2 separate regions of the Homo sapiens genome follow, and region 2 is linked to region 1. Evidence: fine-mapped expression QTL. A gene starts in region 1. The other region holds a variant in brackets. All regions are shown on one strand. Distances are from middle to middle. Region 1 holds the start of SNX30-DT (SNX30 divergent transcript). Region 2 overlaps BSPRY (B-box and SPRY domain containing).

The links. PIP is the estimated chance that this variant, and not a neighbour inherited with it, causes the effect.
Region 2: its variant is fine-mapped to the expression of SNX30-DT in naive CD8 T cells (Schmiedel 2018, PIP 0.95).

Annotation. Positions count from the first base shown.
Region 1 is chr9:112,743,037-112,758,309 of GRCh38, forward strand. It overlaps SNX30-DT (SNX30 divergent transcript), which reads right to left and starts at 7,529. Exons shown (of 1, transcript NR_186503.1): 1 at 5,848-7,529. SNX30 (sorting nexin family member 30) reads left to right here and starts at 7,724. Exons shown (of 9, transcript NM_001012994.2): 1 at 7,724-8,121. The coding sequence starts at 7,966. RefSeq lists a silencer at 7,482-8,301 and enhancers at 7,571-8,492, 8,493-9,412, 11,543-12,157, 11,616-11,705, 12,158-12,771 and 1 more.
Region 2 is chr9:113,356,108-113,371,380 of GRCh38, forward strand. BSPRY (B-box and SPRY domain containing) reads left to right here. Exons shown (of 6, transcript NM_017688.3): 3 at 4,400-4,630; 4 at 6,262-6,287; 5 at 12,152-12,276; 6 at 13,509-15,115. The coding sequence ends at 14,035. Among named protein-coding and RNA genes, the nearest start is that of HDHD3, 13 kb to the right of the region's middle. RefSeq lists enhancers at 13,311-13,811, 13,812-14,312. The variant AGTGT/A (reference allele first, on the strand shown) is at 9,643.

The DNA.
Region 1 (15,273 bases):
AGATTTTTTTTTGGCCTCCCTACCCCAAGAAGCAATTTACGTCCTTTTGAAGGTGATATTGGCTCTTTTGAGAATGCATGTTACAGAAGGATGGTACTCTTGCTGTGAACGTTGCCACCCACCAGGTGAACTCTCTTCTTAGACTTTCTCCTGCTTGCTTGTATTCTTTGTCTTCTTAATCCATAAGGATGAGTTCATCTGCAAGTCACAGGGATTCAAATTAAACTGCCTGACACCATAAGGATGTTTATATTCTACAAAAGAAGTCTGGATTTAGATGCAGTGGCTCGGTGATGCCACCAAAGACACAGGCTCTTTCCATTTATCCACTCAGCTATCCTCAGGGTAACCGGAATGTCTCCACTCATGGCCACAAGATGGCTGCAGCAGCTCCAGGCATTGGTCCACACATGATTGCATTTGAAAGGAAGGGAAAAGAGACAAGCAATGAACAATGAAGAAGGAGCAAATGACTCTCTGGTAGGCAACTGATAGTGGCTGACACTTCTCTCTCTTTTTGCTTATTTCCTCCTTTCTTTGTCATTAAACTAGCATCCCCCAAATCCACGTGTACATCAATGTGCATCAAAGTGGAAAGGATCATTGCCAGGAGCACTCTTGGTTGACCTCATGCAAATTACTACCTCTGGGCCTCAGCTTCCTCACTTTTGAAGCAAGGGTGGAAGACTAGATGCCCTTTTTAATGTAAACTTCCTATTGAAGTAGAACATAAAGGCTCACAAACCATAAATATACTGCTTGAAGAATTTTTTTTTTTTTTTTTTTTGAGACAGGGTCTCACTCTGTCACCCATGGTGGAGTGCAGTAGCATGATCTCTGCTCACTGCAACCTCTGCCTCCTGGGCTCAAATGATCCTCCCACCTCAGCCTCCTGGGTAGCTGAGACTACAGGCACACACCACTACGCCCAGCTAAGTTTTTGTAGAAACAAGGTTTCACTATGTTACCCAGGCTGGTCTTGAATTCCTAGGCTCATGCAATCTGCCCACCTTGGCCTCCAAAAGTATTGGGATTACAGGCATGAGCCACTGCACCCGGCCTGCTTGATGAATTTTTACAAAATAAAACAAAAAACAAACAAACAAACAAACAAACAAGCCCACAGATCAAAAAACAAATACCCCAGAACTCACTACCATTCTGTTTTCTCACACTGCACGTTAGTTTTGCCTGTTTTTTAGCTTTATATAAATGGAGTCATACAGCAGATATTCTTTTATATCTAGCTTGTTTCACTCACTATTGTATTTGTGAGATGCATTCACCATGTTGTTCCTTCATTCTGTTGTGCAATATTCCATTGTGTGAATGTATCACATTTATTCACGCATTACACTGTTGACAGCCATGTGACTGGTTTCCAGTTTTCGCTCTTACAAATAGCACTGCTGAGGAGATTCTTGGATCAATCTTTTGGTAAATGTATGCACGCATTTCTACTGTGTTCTGAAAGTAGAACTGCTGGGCCATATCATGTGTGAATGTCCATGTTCCAGATGCCTTTTTTTTTTTTTTTAAGATGGAGTTTCACCCTTGTTTCCCAGTCTGGAGTGAAATGGCGCAATCTGGGCTCACTGCAACCTCCACCTCCCGGGTTCAAGCAATTCTCGTGCCTCAGCCTCCCGTGTAGCTGGGATTACAGGCATGTGCCACCTCACCTGGCTAATTTTTGTATTTTCAGTGGTGATGGGGTTTCACTATGTTGGTCAGGCCAGTCTCAAACTCCTGACCTCAGGTGATCCACCCGCCTTGGCCTCTCAAAGTGTTGGGATTACAGGCATGAGCCACCGCACCCAGCCTTCAGATGCCTTTTAAGGATCACTCCTCGTGATGGAATCAAACACTCTCATGGAGGCACACAGCCAGTAAGTAGGTTTTCCATTCTATCCAAAGAATCACTGTTAATAAGACTCAGTGCCCGTGGTTCCAGTACTTGTCAGTTCCATATCTTCTCCAGCCCAACCTCTCTAATGGGTAGCCCTCACAAAGGAATACACATCCATGCCCAAACTCCATACACCTGTGCCTGCTTGTAAAGAAAGCCAGGTAGCACGTATCCTTCAGTGATGGCAGTGAAAGGTGTTTCTATAGCCAGATGTGGCCCAGCTACTAGGAGCCTTCAGGGTAGGCCAAGGTTTTGAGGGCTCTGGAAAGTATCCACTCCTCTGTGATCTACTTCATGACCAGACTTATGAAATGAAACTATTGGCCGGGCACGGTGGCTCACGCCTGTAATCCCAGCACTTTGGGAGGTCGAGGCAGGTGGATCACGAGGTCAGGAGATCAAGACCATCCTGGCTAACACGGTGAAACCCCGTCTCTACTAAAAATACAAAAACAAAATTAGCCGGGTGCGGTGGTGGGTGCCTGTAGTCTCAGCTACTCAGGAGGCTGAGGCAGGAGAATGGCATGAACCCAAGAGGTGGAGCTTGCAGTGAGCTGAGATCGCGCCACTGCACTCCAGCCTGGGTGACAGAGCGAGACTCCGTTTAAAAACAACAACAATAACAACAATAAAAAAAAATTATCAACAAATAGGTTAGTTCATCTGAGCTCTTTTCTTAAAATTTTTTTTTAATTTAATATTTTTTGTGGGCACATAGTAGGCATATATATTTATGGGGTACATGAAATACTTTGATACAGGTATACAATGCATAATAACACATCAGGGTAAATGGGATATCCATCACCTCAATCTTCCCTTATATTTTAAGCGCCTGGTAGATGCTCACTAAAATAATCATAAAAGTTTAGGAGCAAAAGGACCTTGTAATGTAATTTTCTAATAGAAAATTGCTTTCTAAGCAAGTTTTCAAACAGGATATTTATTTAAAGTAAGCACTTAAAGGTTTGGAATGTCAATTTATAGTTTAGAAAAATGGAAGGATCTTGGCTGGGAGTGGTGGCTCACGCCTGTAATCCCAGCACTTTGGGAGGCCAAAGTGGGCAGATCACTTGAGGTCAGGAGTTCAAGACAAGCCTGGCCAACATGGTGAAACCCTGTCTTTACTAAATATACAAAAATTAGCTGGGCGTGGTGGTGCGCGCCTATAATCCCAGCTACTCGGGAGGCTGAGGCAGGAGAATCGCTTGAACCCAGGAGGCAGTGGCGACAGTGAGCTGAGATTGCACCACTGCACTCCAGCCTGGGCGACAGGGCGAGACTCTGTCTCAAAAAAAAAGAAAAAAAAAAGAAAAGAAAAATGGAAGGATTTGGATGGATTCATGCTAGGTTAAAAGAGAGAGAGAAAGGCTGGCACGGTGGTTCACACCTGTAATCCCGGCACTTTGGGAGGCCAAAGTAGGCGGATCACCTGAGGTCAGGAGTTTAGACCAGCCTGGCCAACATGGCGAAACACCATCTCTACTAAAAACACAAAAATTAGCTGGGCATGCTGGTGTGCGCCTGTAATCCCAGCTACTCCGGAAGCTGAGGCAGGTGAATTGCTTGAACCTAGGAGGTGGAGGTTGCAGTGAGCCGAGATTGCACCACTGCACTCCGACCTGGGTGACACAGTGAGACTCTGTCTCAAAAAAAAAAAAAAAAAACAACGAAAAGAAAAATGGAAGGATCTTGATGGATTGATGCTAGGTTAAAAGAGAGAGAGCGAGCAAGAGAAATGGAAGGAGCTAAGAGAACAGTGTTTCTCAAAATATAGTCTATAGACCAGCATCAGCGTAAGCATCACCTAGGAGATTAACACTTTTTAAATTAAAAATTAATTTAAATTAAAAATTATTCCAGGCCTCACTCCAGAAGCAGAATCTCTTGATGTGGGGCCCAGAAGTTTGCATTTTTACAAGCTCACAATTGATTGTTAGGCACCCAAAGTTTGAGATTTGGAACACTAACTCCATGACTGTACTGTATAACTCACTGCATCAGGGTCTCCATGCTTTGCAAGCCAGGAGCTCTTCTATATGGAGAGATAAAATGATGCTATCATTCACCCACAAGCCCCTCTGCTGGTTCAGTAGCAAGTTCCAATTTCTTGTTAGCAAAACTGTTCAGATCCTGGACTCAAGTGGACCTTGTTTCTTTCCTGGGACATCATTGGCTGAATTAAATTGTCCACACAATTTTGTCTCTGTTGGGGATTGTGCCTTCTCACTTGCCCCCCTTGTTTGATACAGCCCTCTGTGGCTTGCGACATGTCATCCTGAATGCTCTCTGAAAACGTCCTTTGTCCTCACCAGCCGTCCACTTCAGAAGTGGTGGTGTTATTCTGAGGCAGGGCTTGGGATGCCATATAGAATAAAGCTATGATTGTACTAAAAACCACCAGAGGATAAGCGGCTAACACAAACATGAAGAAGGCCTAAGCACATGCTGTACCAGGGGAAAGAATGAGCGAATGATGCATTGAGACTGCTTTGTTTCTGAGGTCTGGGTGCTCACAGGCAGCCCCAATACGCTTGCTAGTGAGGTCGATAGGATTTGTTTGGTAAGCGTACTAAATTCTGGGGCCCAAAGCCCTGTCTCCTGAAAGGTGCCAGCCTAAGTGTCTAAGATTCCTTATGAATTGGGAGGGCTCCATGCTGTGTTCTTGGGTTCTGGTGGCATTGGGGACCTCCCTCGCCCCTCATGCACACACATACATCTACTATCTTCCTCAGAGCTCAACCCTAGAAATCCAAGCTTCCCTCCATAAGTTCCAACAAACACCACAGCCTTCTGCTCTGATGGAGAAACGTTACACGTTTCCTCCTTACCACCATGCTGCTTTTAAAACTTTTAGTAGCCTGTAATCCCAGCACTTTGGGAGGCCAAGGCAGGCAGATCACTTGAGGTCATGAGTTTGAGACCAGCCTGGACAACATGGTGAAACCCTGTCTCTACTAAAAATACAAAAATTAGCCGGGCATGGTGGCACACACCTGTAATCCCAGCTACTGTGGAGGCTGAGGCAGGAGAATCGCTTGAACCTGGGAGGCGGAGGTTGCAGTGAGCTGAGATTGCGCCACTGCACTCCAGCCTGGGCGACAGAGCAAGGCCCTGTCTCCAAGAAAAAAAAAAAAAAAAAACAAAACCTTTTAGTAGAAGCAAAGTCACATGCTCTGGGACACTTATATTATTTCAGTGACAATTTCCCACCACAAGGAACACTGAAATACCACAGGAAATGGTGAATATGAATGGGCAGGGCTGGGCTAAATTTCATCGTGGAAACTTTCTACCAAAATACTTTCCATACAAATTCACTTTCTTTAGTTTTGATGACTACCCACTGGATATTGTGGCCAGCTGCTATCGACCAACCAGGAAACTGGAAAATAAATAAATAAACTGTAATCAACTATTTCATATGGCCTTTTAGGAACTCTGGGTCTGGGTCCTTTTTTTGGTGGGAGCATAGAAAAGTGGTACTCCAATCTAAACTGAGCAAATGGAGGACTTTGGAGGTCAATACACACACACACACACACACACACATATACACACATATATATGTACACACACATATATATGTATATATATATATATTTTTTTTTATTTTGAGACAAGGTCTCCTTCTGTTGCCCAGGCTGAAGTACAGTGGTGCAATCTCAGCTCATTGCACCCTCAACCTCCCAGGCTCAAGCAATCCTTCCACCTCAGCCTCTTGGGTAGCTGGGACTACAGGTATGTGCCACCATGCCGGACTAATTTTTACATTTTTTATAGAGATGGGGCTCTCACTATGTTGCCCAAGCTGGTCTTGAACTTATGGGCTCAAGTGATCCTCCCACCTTGGCCTCCCAAAGTGCTGGGATTACAGGTGTGAGGCACCCTACCTGGTGTGTATGTGTGTGTATATATATGTATATTCAACCAGACCCTACTCAGAATAGTAAAGCATATTTAATTACAAAAACTCTTTATTATTTCATAAGAATAGTAGAGAAAATCTGACAGAAAGGGAAAGGAAGGTAGGTAATTAACATTTAGGGAGCACCTATTTTATGCCAGCACTTTGCTAGGACTATGACATAAAGAATGCTATATAACTCTCACAACCATCTCATAAGGTATTATTACCTGCTCTCCATTCTCCTCCTTTTTAGGTTAGGAACAGGTTCACTGAGGTTAGTAACTTGCTCATGGTCACCCACTTGTAGTGACAAAGCCGAATTCAAATGTGGTTCTTTTTTCACTTTCCCCTGGTGTACTAAAGAGAAAGCTTGTATAGAGTCTTAATCCATACGGATGTCCATTATATTTAAGGCAGCCTGGTTGTTAAAATAAGTAGCACCATTCAATAAGAAAAACCGATGTTATACATCTATAGATGTATATACTCATTTCTAGAAATACTCATTTCTAGTTATATTGTGCTATTCATTTTCATGCTAATTCAGAAGAACAGATAATAGGGTCTGTAGTAGTTGTAAGCAGCCCTTGAATGTGAAAGTGTTAACAATTTTAATCCAACTCCAAGAGGACCAGAACTTGGCATTCCTTAGATGCAGCATTTAAAATTGTTCCCAGTGCCCTTTGAATGCTACTTTTCCCAGCCAAGGCAGGCTTATGTGGAGGAGATAAAGATGATAGCTTGAGGACTAAGGGTCCAACCCTATATAAATTACATTGGGGGAAATAGGGGAAGGTCTTTGAAGCTCAGAGTCTCTGACTGATATTTTGGGTAGATTTCAACCCTCTGCATTCTCTTCTATTTGTTTCTAGAGAAAACTGTGGTAGAGGCCTTAGTGAATCCCAGAGTCAACATCTGTCATCACCTTTTAGCAGGTAAGGCTAGGCAAACCTTTGAGTTTGGAATGGGTAGGGAAAATGTGGTCCCTCACGATGAGCCTCCCTACCCATTACTTTGCTAGAGGGACTGAAAACCCTTTAAAGACTTGGCCTTGGAAACAGAAGATCTAGGGACAGGTAAGGTGGAAAAAGGAGGTGAACCTACACCCCAAAGGGCTGGAAGTAACACCTTGACTATTTGCACCACGCCAGCAAATAAAGCTGAGAATCAGCTCAGCCCAAGGCCTGGAAAGGAAGCACAAATGCATGAAGAATAACTTGAACCTCATGGTTCTTTCAAAAGTCTCTTCGGCCAAAGTGTGAGTTGAAGAGTCGCATATCATTTGAGACTCTCTACTCATGCTCGCTGTTCTGAGGTTTGACTTTACACAAATCCAGCTCAGCTGCAGAAGCAAGCCACAATGGGGACCTCAGAGTGAGCCTGAAGACTCCCCACACCGCCTCTTTGAAGTCCCTTCCAGGTTCCCCACCCGATGTCCTCTAGCTCATTTGAGCCTTGTCGCCCTTTATGCTATTCTTCCGATATGGGTCGTAATTCCGTCTATCTAGGGTTCTTCCTGCGCGTGCCTTAGAGGCCAGAAGACCCTGACTCACGTGCGTGTCCTCAAAGCCCCCAGCCCCAAGCGTGGCTGCTGGTGGGCGCATCAGTAAACGCGGGTGGAACGGAACAGGCTCCTCCAACCTCTTTTCCACCTCTGATTTCCGTTAGACATTTGCTCCGCACGGCGGCCTCCGCGAGGCAACGTTGGACACTGGGAGGACAGCCGCAGAGGCCCAGGGCGCACTTCCTGCCGGGCGGGGGCGGGGCCGCGCCTCCTCCCTCCCTCCCTCCGTCCTTCCTTCCCCACGTGCCCCTTCCCCGCCCTCCCCGCCCCCTCCCGGGCGGCCGCGGCGCCTCGGGGGCGGGGCCGGAGCGGGTGGGCGGTGTGGCTGTGTGGGCTGGGCGCCGCGGCCGTGCTGCCAGCGGACCCGCGGCGGGCTCGGGCGCGGAGCGGGGGCGCGCGGCGCGGAGCGGAGCGTCTGAGCGCCGGCAGAGACCAGCCGGCGGGTGGCGGCGGCCCCCAGCACGGCCGGTGCAAGGCCTCGGGTTAAGCGGCGGCCGAGCGGGGCTCGGCCCGGGGTGCTCGGGGAGCTCGCCGCGGCGGGCAGCAGGAGGAAGCGGCGGCGGCGCGTCCCGAGCGGTGCGCGCCATGGCGGGCGGGCCCCCCAAGGCCCTGCCGTCCACGGGGCCCCACTCCCTGCGCGACATGCCGCACCCGCTGGCCGGCTCCAGCAGCGAGGAGGCCGTGGGTGGTGACAGCACGCCCAGCCCGGACCTGCTGATGGCCCGCAGCTTCGGTGACAAGGTGGGGCGCCTGGGGCCGGGGAGTGGGAGGCTTATTTCGCTCCCCGTGGGGGGGATGATGGATCCGGAGCCTTCGTGGGCCTGGGGCCGCGCCCACCCTGCCGCCCCTTCCCGGGGGACGGGCGTGTCCTGGCCCCGGAGCCCTCGGCGAAGCGTCTCCTCTGCCGCCTCCGCGGGGTCGCAGCCGCAGAGGGACAGGCTTCGCTGCCTGTGACTGGTCGCAAGCACCGGTGACAGCTGGTGGGGAGGGGTCCAGCCTGCGTGTTGGAGCGGGAGGCGTGTGTTCAGGGCAGGGCGCCTGTGTCCTCGGATGGGGTTCCGAGTTCCTCCAGGTGCATCCCTGCAGGCTGAGCTGCTGCATAACTTGTAGCTCCTCCAGTTTCCGAGACTGCACAGAAAGCAGGAGTTCCTGGCTTTCCGTGCTGGGACCGGGCAGCCCTGGGCTTACAGCGAGAGTCTTCTTCCCCCTAGTCAGTCATGTGGGGAGTGATCTTTGTTTAGGTTTGCTGTTTGTCCTGAGGAGTCACCTGACTCAGACCCCAGCCGGCGGCGGGAGGAGAGCCTCGTTGTGGTTTTCTGTCTGGGGCTCCATTCACCTCCGACGGCCTACCACTCTGTTTAGGTTTGGCAGAGGCTGGTTTTGTGGTTGATGGAAAGAAAGCTCGCCCTTTGACCTTCTTTGTACGGAGGGAGGCTCCAGATTTTCTTAGAGCAGCACAACCCTCCTGCTGCTTGGAGAGACAGCAGAGTCCAGGCAGGGGTAAGGGACGACCTCCTCCCTACCCCCATGGCCATTTCAGCTGTGAAGGAGACTTGAGCAGTGATTGTATCCCCGCTCCTGCCGTCACTTAGTCACTAACTGCAGAAATTAGAATTGTTCTCAGGTCTTGTGATCAAGATTTTCTCTCCCTAGTAAAATACTAAATGAATTCCCCCTTGTCCCAATATTAATGGGAGCAGGGGACCTAACTTTCTTCTCCCGTTAGAGGGGACACCATGTGGTACAGTGAAAAAGGAGTATGAGAAAATATAACCTGCCCTCCTTGCAGTCAGAAGGTCACTGAGCACTTAAAATCACTAGAGAGTGCGACTTGATGTACCTTCTGCAGAGGGTTTGTGAAAGCAGGGAGTGAAGTTCCAAAGCATTAGGAACAGGAAAATTAAAAAAGCTAATGGAGGCCAGGTGCAGTGGCTCACACCTGTAATACCAGCACTTTGGGAGGCTGAAGTGGGATGATTGCTCTGAACCAAAAGTTTGAGACCAGCCTGGGCAACATATCGAGACCCCGTTTCCACATACGCACACAGCATGGTGGCATGCACCTGTAATCCAGGCTACTCAGGAGGCTGAGGCGGGAGGATTGCTTGAGCCTGGGAGTTCAAGGCTGCAGTGAGCTATGATTGCACCGCTGTACTCCAGCCTGGGCAAGAGAGTGAGACCCTGTCTCCAAAAAATGTTGAATAACTGAATAAATTTGCTTTCTTATCGACAAAAATTGGTCTTAAAATAGTGTAGGAACTGGGGGTTAAACCTCATTTCCTTCTCAGTTCTGTGTGGGACACTGAATTAATTATCTATTGCTGTGTAGCAAATTACCCCAAAACTTATCACCTGGAAATAGTGTCTGTGGGACAATCTGAGTGGTTCTGAATTAGGCCTTTCTTGAGGTTGCAGTCAAGTTGTTGGCTTGGGCTGCAGTCATCTGAAGGCTGGATTAGGGGAGGATCCACTTCTAAGCTCACTCACATGGCTGTTGGCAGGTCTTAGTTACTCTCCATAGGGCTGTTTGATGTGGCAACTGGTTTTTCCCCCCAGAGCAAGTGATCCAAGAGAGCTCAAGACTCTAGCCAGTCTTGTATAACTTATCTTGGAAATGACATGCCTCTGCTGTATTCTGTTGGTCACACAGATTGACACTGGTACAATGTGGGGAGAGGGTGTGAATATCAGGGTGTGTATACCAAGAGGTGGGGATCATTGGGCCATCTTGGAGACTGGCTACTACAGATAGCCATTTAAAATATTTACCTAACGATTCACTCATGGATGATACCTGACTCAGAAGTATGAGCATTTTACTAATAAGCACTTGGAAGACAAATTCCCCGTACCACCAAGATCTGGTTAGTGGTGAAGAAGTCAGTCTCAAGTCTAATTACCGATGGCTTCCTTTAAAGGGTCTGTTCTGTGTAGGAGGGAGAGTCTTGAAGGCATTATTAATTATTGAATATATATGTATTTTTTTGAGCAGAGACTTACTCTGTCACCCAGGCTGGAGCGCAGTGGCCTGATCCTGACTCACTGCAACCTCCACCTCCCTGGTCAAAGTGATTCTCGTGTCTCAGCTCCCGTATAGCTGTGATTACAGGCGTGTGCTACCTTGACCAGGTAATTTGTGTATTTTTAGTAGAGACGAGGTTTCGCCATGTTGGCCAGGCTAGTCTCGAACTCCTGGCTTCAAGTGATCTGCCCTCCTCGGCCTCCCAAAGTGCTGGGATTACAAACATGAGCCACTGTGCCTGGCCTAATTATTGAATATTTAATGAATCTCCTAACAGCTGTGGGGAGCATCTAAATGACACCATTCTCAAGGGCCTGATTTATAGTAAGCCACTTTTCCTTAGAGGCTAAGCATTGTAATTTCTTTCTCTGACTAGGAGTAACATTTTCCTTGAATCTTGGCATACACGTATGGTCTCATAACTCTGAAGAAATTTCTGTAGAGAGAAGCTAGCAAGCCACAGAGGTGAGTCAGAGCCAGAAGAAGGAAGCCTTCCCTGTGGCTGGCTTTCTCCTACCTCAGCAGCATGAGGGTCATCAGAGGGGTGTTAGGACAGTTCAGTGCTATGGTCTGTCTTTGAAAAGAAGCCAGTTTTGTCTTGTTAGATACTGGGGTTGTGATCCTGGATGACAGGGATTCTGCGTCAGTTCTGGGCCAGGGGAATGAAGGTTTGACAGGCTGGTCATAGTACAGGGTTATTATGCAAAGGGGAATTGCTTTCTGAGGGCCCAAGATGGTGCGATGAACAGGGTAGCCTGGTGTCTTGGTCCAGCTGACGCTTGTGAATGAACTCTGTAGTGCTTGGGTAGAAGAGAAAGACTGAATATGATGGACTCTCCACCAATTTCTCAAATTGTTCAAATCATGGTGTGATGCCTCCCTTCATAGGCTCCCAAAGGAGGAATCCTTTCTATCTACCAGAGGTTGCCAGGACTAATTCTTTTGATGCCTGCTAAACTCACTGGGCCTTTTTTTTTTTTTTTTTTTTTTGAGATGGAGTCTCACTCTGTTGCCTAGGCTAGAGTGCAGTGGTGCAGTCTCACTGCAACCTTTCCCTCCTGGGTTCATGTGATTCTCCTGCCTCAGCCTCCTGAGTAGCTGAGATTACAGGTGACTGCCACCACACCTGGCTAATTTTTTTATTTTTAGTAGTGATGGGGTTTTACCATGTTAGCCTGGCTGGTCTCGAACTTCTGACCTCAGATGATCTGCCCACCTCTGCCTCCCAAAGTTCTGGGATTACAGGCGTGAGCCTCACTGGACCTTATATGGCTATCTCCATCTAAAATGTAAATACATCACTTAGCCTTACTCTCCTTTTTTAACTTTCATCTGTAAATTGCTCCAGGCTGCTTCTCCTCTGACTCAGCCTCTAACTTCTGTACCCCTCCCAAAACTTAATACTGGATTCTTAAGCCCCATTGTGTGGCTAACACCTCCTCCCACATCCTCAATCTCTTCTCTGAACTCTTCATCTACTTCCTGCCTCCTTAGGTCACTTAGACGTCCTCTGAAGTCTTCAAAATAGAGAAGGCTTTTCCTCCATCACCTTTTACAAACCAGGCTCTGCTCCTTTGAGGCTCCTGTCATTCTTTTTGTTCATTTGATACATATTTGAGGGCCTACTATGAGCCAGGCACTGTTCTAGGAACTTGAATAAATTAGCTGAAAACCCTGCCCTCACTGGATACATTTCAGCAAGTTTGTACTGTATTACACCATAAATGCCATGGAAGGAGGAAAAAGGAGAACTGGCCGCGAGGAAGAGGATTTGGCAGGCCTTGTTGAGTACTTGATATTTGAGCAGACTGGAAGGAGGTGAGGGAGTTAGTGGGTGAGTATCTGAAGAAGACTGTCCGGGGAGGGACTGCCTGAAGCAGAGGCCGGAAGGCACAGGGCTGGTGTGTCGGGGAGCAGCCTAGAGGCCAGTGTGGCCAGGTAGAGTGAGCATTGGAGAGTTAAAGGCTGGGGGCAGAGAAGGGAGGGGTCAGATTATATTGAATGTGGCCGGTCACCCTGAGGACTTTGGCCTTTATTGCTAGGGCCATGGGGTGGGAAGTTAACATGGGCAGGGGACATTTCAGGGTCTTGAGCAGGAGGGGGGCATAGTTTGATTATATATTGAAAAGGATCACATAGGCTGTTCAATTGAGACTACCTTGAGCATTCCCCTGAATTAGTTAGGATTCTTTATTAGTTAAAAAGACATGAGCTGAATGCAAACTAGATAGAGGAAAATAAAAATCTACTGGCTCACGTTGCTGAAAAGGCCCAGGTATTTTGGCTTCAGGGATGGCTGGAGCAAGGTATTCCAGTGATGTCGGGGATCTGTCACTTTCCATCTCTTGGCTCTGCTTTCTTCTGTGTCAGCCTTGTTCTCATGCCAGTGAAGGGATATGTTCTATAAACAAGCTTCCCAGCTCCAGCAGAAGGAGAGCACTCCTTTCCTGATAGTTCTGGCCAAAGCTCTGGGCTGGTGTCTCATTGGTCTAAATTGGGTCAGGCGCCTAAACCAGTCTCTGATTCTGATTGCGCAGACTTGAATCAGGTACTTATCTTTGGAATGAGGAAAGGAATTTTTTTAAAATTGGGGAATATATACATGAAGTTTATAACAATGTGTGTATATAAAGAGTAAAAGTTATCTGTACAGTTTAAAGACTAATAAAATGTTCCTACCCCCAGATTAAGATACAGAATATTACAAATATTTTGGAAGCCCCCTCTGTGCCTGGGAAGGGAGGAGGTGGTTGCCAGAGCAAAATCAAGAAATGTTAGACAAGCAGGAAACAAATATCCACTACAGACCTTCCAATACTGTTTTCTTTGTCATTTTCCAACTTCACACCTTCTCACTCTCATTCATTAAATCTTTAGACCCCAACTTACTGTCTTCTGAAATCATGTCCTCACCACGGGGCTTTAATCATTCACATGGCTGATCTGTCCAACTCTCCAAAATTACCAGTTTCTTGACCTCCTTATCTGTAATCATCCTTTTTTTTTTTTTTTTTTTTTTTTTTTGGGATGGAGTCTTGCCCTGTTGCCCAGGCTGTGGTGCAATGGCACGATCTCAGCTCACTGCGATCTCAGCTCACTGTAACCTCTGCCTCCAGGGTTCAAGCGATTTTCCTGCCTCAGCCTCCTGAGTAGCTGGGACTACAGGTGCCCACCACCACGCCCAGCTAATTTTTGTATTTTTAGTAGAGACGGGGTTTCACCATATTGGCCAGGCTGGTCTCGAACTCCTGACCTCAGGTGATCCGCCTGCCTCGGCCTCTGAAAGTGCTGGGATCACAGGCGTGAGCCACTGCGCTCGGCTCCTTCACCTTTTTAACAGTTCATCTGCTCTCTCCCACGGCCGCACCCTGCGTTGTAATACCTAGAAGCATTCCAGCTCTGAAATAGTGCCACTGGATATTATCACATTTTATTGTGTTTATTTAAGGTATACAACTTGATGTTATGGGATACACATAGATAGTAAAAGTTTACTATAGTGGAGCAAATGAACACAGTCATCATCTCATAGTTAACTCATTTTGTTTTTGTGGCAAGAGCATCTAAATTGACTCATTTAGCATGATTGTCAAGTACAGTACAATTTTATTATTAATAACTCTAGTCCTCATGTTCTACATTAGATCTCCAGACTTGTACACTCCTCCATATCTGCTATTTTGTATCCGTTTACCTACATCTTCCCATTTCCTCTCCCACCTGCCCTTGGTAGCCACTATTTTGTGTTCTTTCTCTATATATTTGAATTTTTTTAAAGATTCCATATGTAAGTGAGATCACTCAGTGTTTTTCTTTCTGTGTCCGGCTTGTTGCACTTAGCATAATTTCCTTCAGGCTCATTCACGTTATGGCAAATGACAAGATGTCATTCTTTTCTGGGGCTGAATAATATTCAGTTTTGTGTGTACACACACAGTACAGTTTCTCTATCTGTTCGTCCATTGAGGCCTGCTTAGGTTGTTTCTATATCTTGGCTATTGTGAATAATGCTGCAGTGAATGTGGGAGTGCAGATATCTTTATGAGGTGTTGATTTCAGTTCCTTTGGGTATGTGCCCAGAAGAGGGATTGCTGGGTCATATGGTGGTTCTATTTTTAATGTCTTTAGAAACCTCCATACTGTTTTCCATAATGGCTGTACCAATCTACATTCCTAACAGCGTTGTACAAAAGTTCCCTTTTCCCCGCGTATATCATTTTGTCTTGCTTTCCCGTCCTGGCTTTCCAGGTCTCTGAGTCATTAACAACTGACTATACCTGTTCTGTTCTGTGACCTCTTGGATTCCCCTACCTCCTTTAGATTCTGTGGCCCATCTCCGTGGTTGCTCCTGCCTCTATATTCAGTTCCCTTGCTCTCTTCTTTTTATACCCAGCTTGGATCATTCCATTTGTTCATGTCTTTCATCTACAACCAGGGTTCTCAGGAAGCTCAAGGGTTGCTGCCAATGTAAGTTCACAGGTTTCAGCCACAGCTGGGGCTTCAGTGGTCCTGGACACTCCTTCTTTTCCACAGACCCTCCGTCTGCACAGTGGCTTATCTGAAACTTTTCTCTGCTCCTCATACCCTCTACCCTTCTACTCCACCCTTCCTTCTGCTGATTGCCTCACCTTCCACCTTAGAGAAGATGGAAGCCACCAGAAAGGAACTTCCCTTCTTCAAATTTCAGAATGATCTGACTCCATAGCCATGTTTTCTTTCTGGCCCTTGTTCCAAGGAGAGAGTCTAAGGCTGACTGAGGGTGTAGACCCACCTGCCACCCCCCATCCTCTTGGAGACCCTGCTCTGTTTGGCCTCCTGACTTACCCCTGTATCTTTGGACTCCCTCTCAACCAGCTCACTCCCATCAATAT
Region 2 (15,273 bases), 610 kb after region 1:
CTATGTTATGTCCGAAGGTGATATGTGCTATGGGGAAATATAAAACAGAAAGGGGAATAGGACGGGTTGCAATTACATGTGCTGTGACCAGGAATGACTTCATTAAGAAGGTTGAGGCTGGGCGCAGTGGCTCATGCCTGTAATCCCAGCACTTTAGGAGGCTGAGGCGGGTGGATCACGAGGTCAGGAGTTCCAGACCATCCTGGCTAACGCGGTGAAACCCCGTCTCTACTAAAAATACAAAAAAATTAGCAGGGCATGGTGGCGGGCGCCTGTATTCTCAGCTACTTGGGAGGCTGAGGCAGGAGAATCACTTGAACCCGGGAGGCGGAGGTTGCAGTGAGCTGAGACTGCGCACTGCACTGCAGCCTGGGCAACAGTGCGAGACTCTGTCTCAAAAAAAAAAGAAAGAAACACTTTGGCTGCTATGTTTAGAAGTGATTATAGGCGGCAAAGGTTAAAGCAGGGAGACCAGTTAGGAAGCCATTGTAATAATCCAGGTGGGAAACAAGTGTGGTCTGGACCCAAGCAATGGTGGCAAAGCTAGTGAGAAGTGGCTAGATTCTGCATATATTTTGAAGAGGCAACAGGATTTGCTGATGGACTAGATGTAGGCTATGAAAGAAAGAGGGGAGGTGTCAGGATAATGCTGAAGTTTTTTTATTTGAGCAACTGGCAGGATGGAGCAGCCATGAACTGGGTGGGGGAAGGACTGCATGTGGAGTGATGGTTGGCGGAGGCAGGGAGGGGAGTGGGGGAGAGCAGGCATGCTAAGTTGTTGTGGGCATGTTATGTTTGAGATACCTATTTGACATCCAAGTGAAGGTGCTGAGTAGGTAGCTGCATATATGAGTTGGGAGAGGGCTGGGTTGGAGATATAAATTTGGGATTTATCAGTGTATAAATAGTATTGAAAGCCGTGGGAGAGGATGACATCACTAAGTGAATGAGTGTAGACACGAAAGAGCAGCGGTCCAAAGACTGAGCCCTAGGGCACTTCACCTCCTATTGAGAAGACAGAAGGAACCAGCGAACGGGGACCAAGAAATCAGCTAATGAAACGGAAGTAAACTAAGAGAGCAGAGTGTCCCAGCATGGGTTCCAAGGAGGTGGGAGAGATCACTGCTCTCAAATGGTGTATATTTATTTAACTATCTTATCACAGGCATAGATTCATGTGATTACTACCACAATTAAAATACAGAACAGTTCCATCACTAGGACTCCTTGTGCTACCCTTTTATAGCCACATGTACCCTTTCCTATCCCCTTGTATTATTAATACAAAATTTCTGAATTTGGATTGCTAATCTCAGTAAAGCATTTTTTATTTTTGTTTTAGGATTTTTGCTTGTATGCTCAGGAGTGAGATTAGTCTATGAATTTCATTTCTTGTACAGTCCTCATCAGATTTGGTATCAAGGTTATGTGAGCCTTATTCAATGGATTGGAAAACAGAACTCTTTTTTCTTAAGGGTTTACTTAAGATAAAGTTGTTCTTAGTTTTGATCAAAGTTGCCACAGGTTTGACTGTTAGTCTTTAGAACCAGCTTCTAGTATTTTTGGTCTACTCTTTTGTATCTTTGTCTTAATTTCATTATTATTTCTTTCTCTTTTTTTAGACAAAGTCTCACTCCATTGCCCAGGCTGAAATGCAGTGGCGCAATCATAGCTCACTGCAGCCTTGAACTCCTGGGCTCAAGTGATCCTGCTGCCTTGGCCTCCCAAACTGCTTGGATTACCAGCATGACCCGGTACTGTGCCTGGCCTGTAGAGTTCTATATATATATATATATATATATATATATATATATATATATATATATATATATATATCTCTATTAAGCTTATTCATTGGGCTGAGCATGGTAGCTCATGCCTATAATCCCAGCACTTTGGGAGGCCAAGGCCAGGAGGATCACTTGAACCCAGGAGTTCGAGACTGTTTTGGGCAATATAGCAAGACCCTATCTCTACAAAAAATTAAAAAATTATCCAGACATGATGGCATGGGCCTATAGTCCCAACTATTTGGGAGGGTGAGGTGAGAGGATCACTTGAGCCTAGGAGTTTGAGGCTGCAGTGAGCTATGATTGCATCACTGCATTCTAGCCTGGGTGACAGAGCGAGACCCTGTCTCAAAAAACAAAAAATAAAAACCTCTTTTTTTTTCTTTTTTGAGACAGAGTCTTGCCCTGTCACCCAGGCTGGAGTGCAGTGGTGCGATCTCAGCTCACTGCAGCCTCCACCTCCCAGCTTCAAGCAATTCTCCTGCCTCAGCCTCCTGAGTAACTGGGATTACAGGCTCCCACCACCAGGCCCAGCTAATTTTTGTATTTTAGTAGAGGCGGGGTTTCACCTTATTGGCCAGGTTGGTCTTAAACTCCTGACCTTGGGTGATCCACCTGCCTCAGCCTCCCAAAGTGCTGGGATTACAGGTATGAGCCACCGTGTCCAGCCACAACCACACTTTTAAAAGGATGCTTGGGCTATTTTTCCAGCATTTCTCTACTTTATTCTGAGAGGGTTTTTGGTTTGTCTACTCTCTGTCATGTGTTTGGAAAGGGAAGTTTTTCTTTTCTTTGCTCTCCTTTTCTGGGAATGGCTCAACAAACTTGTTGAGAATGACTAGAGTCTTTTAGGCAGGAATCAGAATCTGATTCATCTTGGGTGAGGATCTGTTTTGATCCAGGATCACACAGTACAACCATGGTTTCAGGGGCTCACCCTGTGGGTAAGGCATTAAAGTGGGATAAACAGGAGAATAATCGTGGGCTGGATGCAGTTGCTCATGACTGTAATCCCAGCACTTTGGAAGACTGAGGCAGGAGGATCGCTTGAGCCCAGGAGTTCAAAGCTGCAGTGAGCTATGATTGTGCCACTGCATTTCAGCCTGGGCATCAGAGCAAGACTGTGTCTCTTAAAGAAAAGAAAAGAAAAGAAAAAAAAAAGATAAAGAAGAGCAATAGTGAATGAATGTTATTGAACACATAATGTAGCAGGCTTTGTTCTACTTACTTTATATATATTAACACATTTAACCCTCACTATAGCCTTATGAGGTAGGTACTATTATTATCCTCATTTTACAGATTAGAAAATAGAGGCATAGGGAAGATAAGGAATATGTTCTAAGTTCCACAGCTAATGAGCGGAGCAGTTAAGATTTAAATCTACACACTACCTCTAAAGCTTAATTTCCTGACCACTATGTTATGTTGCCTCAAGAGCACACTATAAACTTGGAGTCTTACCTTCTGGGTTCACTTGCCATTCACTTAGCTAGTCTCTCCTCCCTGTAAGGCAAACTGTGGGTCTCAGTGTTTTCTGTAAAATAGGAATGATTGCCCTGTGCACTGTACAAAGCAGGTCTTAAGGGACAGGGCATAGGGAAAGCTGCTGGCTGTCCCTGACTTTCTGACATGAAGGAGGCAGTTCTATTCCCACTTGTCTGGCAAGAGTACAAGTGCAGCTGCCTTATGCAACAGGTGCCTTTGGGAAGGATTGGTTGCCAGGTGGCATCTGGTGTAGGGGAATGGGACTGGACTGAGAGTCAAGAGAATTGGGTTCGAGTCTCAGCTTTGCTACTGAATTGCCATGTGAGCACTATGAAGAGATCTTTTACTAAGTCAGAAAAAATTTCCTGGGTGGGCACAGTGGCTCATGCCTATAATCCCAGCGCTTTGTGGGGCTGAGTTGGGCTTATTTATTGAGCCTAGGAGTTTGAGACCAGCTTGGGCAACATGGTGAAACTCCATCTCTATTAAAAAAAATTTAAAAAAAAAAATTTCCCATTCAGTCAATATTTGAGTACCTACTGCATGCCAGGCACTGTGCTAAGAATTACAAGAAGACACCTGTTAATTGTCTGAGAATTGATTTCAGGCCTCTTCTGTGGCAGATAAAAATTCTACCACATAACCAGTTGAAATGGACAGTTTTAGGAAGTCATCAGTTTTTTCCCTCAAACATGGTGAAATATCAACTGTACCACTGCTGGTATGGATCCTGCTGATGGGGATGACTTTTTAGGCCCTCTGCTCTGCAATTCTGTGATTCTCTGACCTTGATCCTTTGACCTTGTATTCCCAACTGTGATTAAGCAGAGTATTCTAGTTGGGCTCTAAGTCCTGCCCAGGTCTTCCATTATGTGATCATGGCTCCCTGAGATATGGCCTATGTGTCTGCATCTCAAATTTCTTTACCCTAAACCATATTTGGGAAGTCTTGGGGCAGAGATGTCAAAGTAAAAGGCTTACATGCTATTATTTCCATTACTAAGCCCGTGGCAGACATTGCTAATCAATCTCAACACTCCTTTCCACTGAGCCTAAACCCTCTTAAATCCTGACCGGGGCTTTGCACAGACCACCCAACTCCTCATTTTATCCCTCATTAGAGCATGGCCAGTGCAGCGAGGGAACTGGTTATCCAGCGGTTGAGTCTGGTGAGGAGTCTTTGCGAGAGCGAGGAGCAGCGGTTACTGGAACAGGTGCATGGCGAAGAGGAGCGGGCCCACCAGAGCATCCTGACACAGCGGGTGCACTGGGCCGAGGCGCTGCAGAAACTTGACACCATCCGCACTGGCCTGGTGGGCATGCTTACTCACCTGGATGACCTCCAGCTGATTGTAAGTCAGGCAAGGGTGAGGGCATGACCAGTTGGCCAGGCTCCCCAAAAGCCTGAAAATATCGAGAATGTTTGTCGGTATGAGGAGGGTGGAAATGAGAATTTGGAGCAGGGATGAGTGACAAAGATTCTTTGCTTGGCCAAACTTTAGTCAGGCTTCTGAGCCTTCTCCCAGGCCCATCTGTGCACTTCATTATAAAATCCAGTTTTTGCAAAATAACCCTGCTAAGTCAGTGTAGCCAGAAACCCCCATCCTTGATATCTGATCATCCTTGATATCTGATCAGGTTCCTCATCCACCACCATCCCCTAGGTGATGTCTGATCACTGTGTTCTGTCTGCAGCAAGAATCCTGTTAGGTAGGTTTAGCCATAATCCCCCTTACCCCCAATGTTTCCTCTTAGTAATTTTCCATCCACTAACCCCCAACCCTGCTCCTTAGCTATAAATTCCTACCTGCCCACGCTGTATTCAGAGTTGAACCCAGTCTCTCTCCCATTGCAAGACCCCATTGCAATGAGGTCTTGAATAAAGTCTGCCTTACTGTGCTCTAACAGGTATCATTGAATAATTTCTTCTCTGACATGAGGCAAGGGAATAAAACTATGTTTCTTTGGCACTGATAATAGTTTTCTTTTGATAGTGAGTCATTGTATACTGAGTGCCTATTATATGTGAAGCACTGTGCTATGGGGCAGAGTAACGAGATGCAGCTGTCAGCTGCTCCCAGCCTTACAAAGGAGACAAATACACTGGCTGACAATTAGGATATGGAAGGATATGTGCTATGGTAGAGGAACTCACCCATGCTAGGGACGGACAATCCAGGCTAGGGGAAAGAGGGGTCAGGGAAGGTTCCCGGATGAAGCGACTTAGAAGCTGATGCCTGAAAGATAAGAAAACTAGCTGTGTCAAAGGAAGTGAGGAGGTGGAAAGAGTTCAGGAGCATGTAGAGAGAACACTGTGCTCCGGGGAGCTGACAAGGTCTTCGATATGAAAACACAGAGCTCATCCTTAATCCTACCACCCAGAAATCACCATGATTCATATTTGGTACATAGCCTTTCAAAGTATTTTATATAGATAGGCAGCTGCCTGCAGTTTTGAGGGGAGAAGGTGGCATCTGAGTCACAAGCAGAGGAAAGAGAATGTGGAACACCTGAGCTGTCCCACTGCCTCTGCAAGTAGGGCAGTTTCTATGACTGCTCGAAACTGTGCATTCATTTAGTCACAGCATCCATGGACAGAGCATGCTCTTTCACAGACACTGGGACAGTCACAATAGAAGACTCAGAAAGAGTCGCAGCCGTCCAGGAGCTAACAGTCTTCATGGGAGATGCTGTTGGGTGAACAGGCGATGGTCCTGAGTGGAGTTGAGGGGAATCCAGGATGCCCTGGGACATGGGGTAGAGTGATTCATTCTGAGCATGTGTTATGGGTGTGTGTGTGTGTGTGTGTGTGTGTGTGTGTGTGTGTGTAGAATAGCCTAGAAAGCTTTATGCTGGTCTTAAAGACTAGAAGTTTTTATTCTAGAGTCCACATGGAGCCCTTTCTGGTAGTTAAATCTGTCTTAGCATTGACTCCCTGCTGGGTATCTGGTGCCAAGCTTGACTTTGTTTTCTTTTCTCACAGCAGAAGGAGCAAGAGATTTTCGAGAGGTGAGTATAGACCCCGTGATTTGACTGGGTAGTCTTGGAGACCCTTAGACCTCTTCACACTCCACTGCCTTCAGCCCTGCTGCTCTTGGGAGAATGCACAGGGTGTGCAGCTGAGTGGCTTTTCTGGAGCCTGGCTCTGTGGACAGGGAATGTCTCTGCCCTTGGCTTAGAGAACTGCTTTAAAACACATGGAAAGGCAGTGGAATACTTAGTAATCCAAGGCTTGCCACTGCTTTCTTAAACTTCCTCTGTAAAAAGGTAGTCACCCTGTTGGAGGGTTTTACCACCTCCATGTGCAGATGAAAATGTTGAGATTCTAAAAGGGGAAGGGATCTCCCTAAGCCTGGAACCAGGGGTTGGACCCATCTAACACCTGCCCCGGTACTGTTGCCTCTGCCTCACTTCTCCTTTCCCTGATGGAGGAATCTTTGAAACTTAAGTCTGCATTACCATTCAGATTTTGCATTTTAGCTCTTCAGTAATAAAAGAATTTCACCAGGTCCTGCCTGAGTTCTAAAAGAGCTGAGGGCCTGAGGAAGTGGCCAAGAGGACATAATTTGCCAGGCAGAGTAATTCACAAACCTTCTGTGTGAAATTTCAGAGTTATACTTAGGGAACACAGTCCATTCTTCTTATTTATTTACTTATTTTTCTGTATTTCAATGGGTATAAATTATTTATTTTTATATTGAAGTTTCAATAGTAATACATGTGCATGAGAGAAAAAAAATCCACCAATATAAAGCCATTTAAAATGAAAAATGAATCTTGCTGGGCATGGTGTCTTACACCTGTAATTCCAGCACTTTGGGAGGCCAAGGCAGGATGGTAGCTTGAAGCTAGGAGTTTGAGACCAGCCTGGGCAATACAATAAGACCTGATATCTACAAAAAAAAAATTAGCCATGCTTCGTGCTGAGAGCCTATAGTCCCAGCTTCTCAGAAGGCTGAGACAGGAGCATCACTTGAACCTGGGTGGTTGAGGCTACAGTGAGCTGTGCTCACACCACTGCACTCAGCCTGGGCAACAGAGTAAGACCCTGTCTCAAAGAAAAAGAAAAAAGAAAAAGAAAAATGAGTCTGCATTACCCTTTCCCAATCCTATTCCCTGACAGTGATGGGTTTGAACAGATGTGCATTTGTGGACTTATATATAGTCATAGGAGGGTATGTGGCGGTTTTTTGGTTGTTGTCTTAAAAATGTTTTTTAGGCCCGGTGGCTCATGCCTATAATCCCAGCACTTTGGGAGGCCGAGGAAGGTGGATCACTTGAGGTCAGGAGTTCAAAACCAGCCTGGGCCAAGATAGTGAAATCCTGTCTCTACTAAAAATACAAAAATTAGGTGTGGTGGTGTGTGCCTGTAGTCCCAGCTACTCAGGAGGCTGAGGCAGGAGAATCTCTTGAACCCAGGAGGCGGAGGTTGCAGTGAGCTGAGATGCGCCACTGCACTCCAGCCTGGGTGACAGAGTGAGACTCCACCTCAAAAAAAAAAAAAAAAAAAAAAAAAAAAAAAGCTGGGCGTGATGACTCACGCCTGTAATCCCATCACTTAGGGAGGCCTAGGCAGGCAGATCGCTTGAGGTCAGGAGTTCACAACCAGCCTGGCCAATATGGCGAAAGAAACCTATTAAAAATACAAAAATTAGCTAGGTGCGGTAGCGTACCCCTGTAATCTCAGTTACTGGGGAAGCTGAGGCAAGAGGATCACTTGAGCCCAGGAGGCGGAGGTTATAGTGAGCTGAGAGCCTGCCACTGCACTCCAGACTGGGTGATGGGAGTGAAACCCTGTCTCAAAAAAAACAAAAAAATCAAAACACAGATAGGATCATTTTATACCTGTTGTTGTGAAACTTGTTAGGCTATCTGGGACATCTTTCCACATCAGTACATTTACATTCACGTCACTTTTTTGAAAGTTTGTGAAATATTGCAGTGTAGACGGATCATATTTATTTTACTGTCTCCTAACGCATGCTTGGCTTGTTCCCACTTCTCCCCTTGTACAATCTTTTCACACTTCTGCCCATCTTCTCTATCTCCTTTATCTTTGTCATCTTCCTTTAATACAGTGTGTCCTTAATATCAAGCTGATCTGATTTTTTAATTGATCTTTAATTTTTTATTCAAATGATTCATTTATTCAAATGATTTCAAACTTAGAAAAAAGTTGCAAAGGTAGTATAACGAGCTTCACGTAGAAAATATCAATTGTTGACATTTTGCCACATTCATTGTCGCTCGTTCTCTCTGTCTTCCTATTTATCTATCTAGTATATATGTTAGAAACTTATTTTTTTATGGTATATTTGAGGGTAAATTCCAGAAAACATGAATTTTTCTTTCAAGATACTTCAGCATGTTTCTCCTAGAAACAAAGACATTCCCTTACATCACCCCAGTGTAAATTAAGGAAATTTAACATTGATATAATACTATAATCTAATACACAGTCCATATCCAACTGTTGCCAATTGTGCAAAAGTTCTTAATAGTGTTTTATTTTGTTTTCCTAATTCAGCTGTCTTTTTAAGTCTAGAATTATTCCTTAGCTTGTTTTTTTTTTTTTTTTTAACATTTTTAAAGAGTCAAGGCCAGTTTTATAGGATCTCCTTCAGTTGGGTTTATCTGATGTTATCTTATGATTAGATTCAAGTTATACATTTTTAGCAGGAATACTTCATAAGTGATCTGTCTTCAGTTCATCATATCTGGGGGCACATGATGTCCCTTTGTCCGTTATCAAGGATGTCAATTTTGAGCACTTGGATGTCTGCCAGGTTTCCTCATTATAAAGTTATGCTTTTCCTTTTATAATTAATAAGCAGTCTGTGAGGAGACACTTTCTGCATATATATCCTGTGTCCCTTCAGACTTTCTCCCAATAGTTTTAGCATCCATTGGTCACTCCTGCCTGAATTATTCCTTTTATTTGCTTGTTTGTTCCCTTATTCAATATTAATACAGACTGATGGATTCTTATTTTATTCAGTGCATTATAATCTGTCACTGTTATTACTAATTTTGACATTCAGACTGTCCCAGATTTGGCCTGTAGAAGCCCTTTCAAGCTGGACCCTGTGTCCTTTTGAAAAGTTCCCATCATTCTTTGAGCACTTTCTTGCTCTCTTTCACAAGAAGCACAAGAAGAAAACCCCAGCTCAACTTGTGCTTTTCCTGCCCCTGAATCAGCTGCTTCTCCAGGGCACCTGGTTGTTTTTAGTGGAGAATGATATTTAGAAACCAAGATCTGAGCATTAAGGGTACTCAGTGACCTTGCTTCTAGGCCTCACTCAGCTCACTCAGCATATAGCAGATGGAACTAGGAAGGGAGAAAGAGAAAGAGAGAGAGAGAGAG[AGTGT/A]GTGTGTGTGTGTGTAGCTGTTTGATGCATGAGTTTGTGTCACAGCTTCTTTTTTTTTTTTTTTTTTTTGAGATGGAGTCTTACTCTGTCACTTAGGCTGGAGTGCAGTGGCGCAATCTTGCCTCACTGCAACTTCCACCTCCTGGGTCCAAGCGATTCTCCTGCCTCAGCCTGCCAAGTAGCTGGGATTACAGGCATGTGTCACCACACCCAGCTAATTTTTGTAATTTTAGTGGAGACAAGGTTTCACCATATTAGCCAGGCTGGTCTCGAACTCTTGACCTCAAGTGATCCTTCCACCTCAGTCTCCCAAAGTGCTGGGATTACAGGCATAAGCCACCATGCCCAGCCTGTATCACAGATTCTAATTCCAATGTAACACCTCAAGGTTTTTCCTTTGCCCTCTCCCTTTCTACATTTGTACCTTTTGTTATTTTACAGTGAGGACTCCAGCCCCCAACAACATCAGTATTTGCTCAGTCCTACAATACATACAAAGTTGTCCGAGCATTGCTAAGCCCATACTACTATTGAAAGGCCTATCCATAGAGTTCCAGATTTGTCTGTAGTTCTTTATGCCCCCAGGCTGAGCGAATATACTCTCAAAGTAGTGTTCAAAAGTTGTGAAGCCCCATCTAGCCGGAAACTCACTTATCTGAGAAGTGCCTTGTTGGCTCTGGTGTTTCCACGCTTGTAGCTGGGCTCAACTCTGACTGGACACTGCAGCAGATCCTGCCGCACCATCTGGGCATTCTGATCCTGGCCAGGGCCTGCTGTGTTCAGGCCCTTTTTCATTTCCACCCCTTTGGGGCCATGAGTTTTGTCTTCGGTACCATAGGGCAGCTAGCCCGGGTGGTTCGCTGTAGACTTCACTATGTTCAGCCTCACATTTGCCCTGGGATGACAGCTTAGCACCGCTGACATCAGCTCCTCTTTCTTCCCCACCTGTTGGCGGGAGCTCCTGCGTTCTGAGAAGATGGCAATAGACCCTCTGTTGTCCTGACCACAAAGAGCCTTTGTTACTAGAGCTTGCTCCCAGCATTTCTAAGGTTCTGTTCACCTTATACCTCCCAAGACAGAACAGTGACAGTCTTGCAAAGAGCCATCAGGGCACATGCCCCACCCCTGTGCCCACTCCATTTATGCACAGAGCCATGAGATATGGGGAGAGAGTGTGTGTACTCGGAACCACTGCCTGATCTCAACGCCATCTTCAGGATTGGAGGCAGTAGGAAAGGTCTTTCTCAGCACCTAGGTCAAAAGGCTGCAAAGCTCCATGGTAAACCCCTACTTTGCCCTATATTCCTTTGAGATTTCACTTCAGGTCAAGGAAAAAATTATGTTGAATGCTGCCTGGGCTTCATCCCAGTTTTGTTCTATTTTTGCATGGAGGCATGACTTGAATCTAGCTCCCCTTTTTAGCTCTGAATCTGTTCTGTCCTGTTAAATCAGATAACCACTACCTCCCAGGTTATAGCAAAGTTGAGGTATGATTCTGTAGAGAAAACAGCAAACCCAGGCCCTCACTGCTGATACATGGCAGTTTTCAACTCCTAGGCATCATATTGTCCCAAAATACCTCTCCAGCAAAACCCAGCCCCCATTGTGAGCTGAGGGGAGAGTTATTGAGAGCACACAGTGCCATGATTCATTTGTGGCTGGGGTGATAACTGATGGCCCTTTCCTCTGTGGACCCCTCAGGTGTTTGCATTTTTAAAGTAGAGGAGTGGCTGTACCTTCTGACAAAACCCAGGGAAACATGACTGCCCCAACAGGTCTGAGAGGGAGGTGAGATATTTTCCAGGCAAGGGCAAGATGTTGGAGTAGAAAGACTATCGTGCAGGGGTTCCAGAGGCCCAGGAGGTCTTAGCCCCAGCTCTGCCATTAACTTACTGAGGGACTCTGGCAAGTTGCTTCCTCTGCAGAGCACACCACCTTCAATTTCTAATACTGGCACCAAGAACACATCTTCCTATAAACTGTCCACCAGCTTTGCTAAAATTAAGGCTTCTGGGGGGCACAGGGGAAATGGCCACCTTCCCTTTTGGCCCAAGCACCTGTGTGGGGCCTGGATGCCACTCTTTTTTTTTTTTTTGAGACAGGGTCTCACTCTGTCACCCAGGCTGGAGTGCAGTGGCATGATCTTGGCTCACTGCAGCCTCGAACTCCTGGGCTTAAGCAATCTTCCCACCTCAGCCTCCCAGGTAGCTGGGACTACAGGTGCATGCCACCACACCCAGCTAATTTTTAAATTTTTTGTAGAGATGGAGTCTTATTATGTTGCCCATGCTGGTCTCAAACTCCTGGGCTCAAGTGATCCTCTCCCACATCAGGCCTTCCAAAGTGCTAGGGTCACAGGGGTGAGCCACTGCACCTGGCCCTAGCTGCCAATCTTGGTATCGCCTGATAGGAGATTTTACTTCTGTTCTTCTCTTCACCCCATATTGATCCAGATATATTTCCAGAACCATCCTGAATCTCTGTCTCTGTTTTTCCCCATATAAGGACCGAAGAAGCAGAGGGCATTTTGGATCCCCAGGAGTCGGAAATGTTAAACTTTAATGAGAAGTGCACTCGGAGCCCACTACTGACCCAACTCTGGGCAACGGCGGTTCTTGGGTCTCTCTCAGGTTAGGAGCAGTAGAGCCCAGGACCATTAGGACAACTGGGCTTCTGTCTGTCTGTCTGGGGTTCACTCCTGGTTCACAATGGGGACCCGTGCTTCTGAGATGATAGCTTAAACAAGTCATGCTGGATGCAGGCTGGTCAGTAGGGTCAAGGTTCCAGACAGGCCTGGGGCAGCTGGGCCAAGTCCTTCCCATTTCCGGACTAACATGTTCTGTGGTTGGGTCAAAGATAAATCTCATTCCTATAAGTCATGTCTTCCTTATATCCTGACCTACTAGGGCAGCCCAGTATTATTTATTGGAAACCTGGGGTTTCTCTTTAAGAAGATAAAATTGATGGCCAACTGAAGAACATCTGGACCAAGAATCAAACTGCCTGATTTGCCTCACTTATTCACTTTACACACACTGACTCAGGCCAACTGTGGGCCCCACCCTGTGCCACATGCTGGGGCCACAGAGGTAAACTGACATGGTCTTCTGCCTCCAGGAATTCCCATTTAGCACAGAGGTTCTCCAGAGCAGGCCTCCTCCAAGTTAGATGGAAGCTTCCATTCTCCCAATGGTAGTCTTTCACAATTCGTGGAACAGTTAGGTTAATAGACTGATTTTTTTTTTTTTTCAGTTTTAATCCTCCCTCCTCGTATTATCCTTACAATTTTGGTAGAAGCTGTAGCTTCTCTACTCTAGATTCTGGTATCAAATGATGCCTGATTTACCAGCAGTTTAGATATTTGCTAGAAATTGCTTATCTCATGCTTCCTAGCTCCCAGAGGCTGTGTTTCTAGGACACGTCCAATCTGGAGGCCACAGATATGACCAAGTAGAAAGAGTATAATCAGTGCTACGTATAGGAACAAAATGTTTTGTCTTCATTTTGCCCCTCCCACCAAGTCAGTGTGTAAACTTGGGCAACTCCCTTTTTCTCTCTGGGCCTTATTTCTATCAGAGTTTACAGTTGAGGGTCTTGACTGATAGTAACTATTGTTATGAAGGCTACAGTTTATAGAGCACTTACATGCTGGGCACTTTACATGTATGATTCTGTTTAATTCTCGTGATCACCCAGTGAGAAGTCCTATTTTGACCCCCGTTTTGCAGACAAGGCTCAGAGAGAGTAAATGGCTTATATGAGGTCACCATGCTAGTGAGTGGTGAGGAACCTTTTGCTACCTGGCAGGACCAGGTTAGGGCAGGGGTGGGCCCTCGGCAACTCTGAGAATTCTTTCTGGCAGGCACAGAGGACATACGGATCGATGAGAGGACAGTCAGCCCCTTCCTGCAATTGTCAGATGATCGAAAGACCCTGACCTTCAGCACCAAGAAGTCAAAGGCCTGTGCAGATGGCCCGGAGCGCTTCGACCACTGGCCCAATGCCCTGGCTGCCACCTCCTTCCAGAATGGGCTCCATGCCTGGATGGTGAATGTCCAGAACAGTTGTGCCTATAAGGTGGGCGTGGCTTCAGGCCACCTGCCCCGCAAGGGTTCTGGCAGTGACTGCCGTCTGGGCCACAATGCCTTCTCCTGGGTCTTCTCTCGCTATGATCAGGAGTTTCGTTTCTCACACAATGGGCAGCACGAGCCCCTGGGGCTGCTGCGGGGCCCAGCCCAGCTGGGTGTAGTGCTGGACTTGCAGGTTCAGGAGCTGCTCTTCTATGAGCCAGCCTCCGGCACAGTGCTCTGTGCCCATCATGTGTCCTTCCCGGGGCCCCTCTTCCCAGTCTTTGCTGTGGCCGATCAGACCATTTCTATCGTCCGCTGACCTCTGGCCACAGGAAGCCAGGTCCACCGCCCACCACCCTTTCAGGCCATGTTTCTACTCAGTGTGCTTTTCCCAAATGATGTGTGTGGTGTTTCTAAGAGAAACAGGGCCCATAACCAGTGGGCAGCTTTAGGAGGGATGGGGATCTGTTTCAGATCTAGGCATAACCTGTAAATCACAGGTGTCCAAACTTTTGGCTTCCCTGGGCCACATTTGAAGAAGAATTTTCTTGGGCCACATAAAATACACTAACGATAGCTGATGAGCTAAAAAAAAAAAAAAAGTCTGTGTATAATTTTTGTGATATCTGCCACCACAGATAAGCAAAAAAGTCCTTGCATTCAAAGGGTTGGAGATTGCTGCTTTGAGTGCTGGGTACCTGTGGGGAACCTACTACTCCCTGGGCCTTAGTCTCCCAAATCCACCATGCATCTGCCCCTCTGAGGGTGTCTTCACTTTGTCTCTGGCATCTAGCATGGTGCCTGGTGCATAGTGAGCATGCAATAAATATTTGGCAGGTGAGTGGATGGATAGATGGATAGGTGAATGTAGGTGGACAGGTGACTGGGTGGATGTTGTGGTCTCTGGAGAAGCACTGCCATTCAGCCTCCTGCTCCAGCTGTTCACATGCAGAAATGCTCTCTTCACAGGCAGAGAAGCCTGTGGCTAAAGTTTCCACATCCCATTAACTCAGTGCTTTTGTCTTTTTCATGACATGGCACATAGAGAAAATATTTTTTTCTAGCACACAAGAGCAACCTGAAAGGCTGCTCCTGGCCAGAGGACTCTGTCCCGGGGGACCGTGTCCTCCCCCATGTCCTGCCTAGGCCCTCAGAGGACCAGGGGATCATGTCTCCAGGTAACCCGACTGTAGCCCCTGCTGGCTGAGCTCCAGCCTGTGCCCACTGATAATAGCAGGGACGGCCTTTTCTCTTAGAGCAGCTGATAAGTTTCCCTACCTGATGGCCCCCTCTGACATAAACTGCACACCTGGGGTGATGGCTTAAAGCCAGAAAGAGCTGAGGGAGTTAAGAGGGCCAACCTTAGGGCACGTGGGCATTATTAAAGGTCTTAAAAGCATTGAAGATTTATTCCATGTTCTTTGTTGATAATTGGGTGTATACTGTACGCTGGCCTGTCTTCATACCCTTATTGCATTCTCGGAAATAAGTGGGTCGCAGCTCAGTGTAGCGGAAAGAGCCTGGAGACATTACCAAGACCCAAGGCAAGTCCCTTTA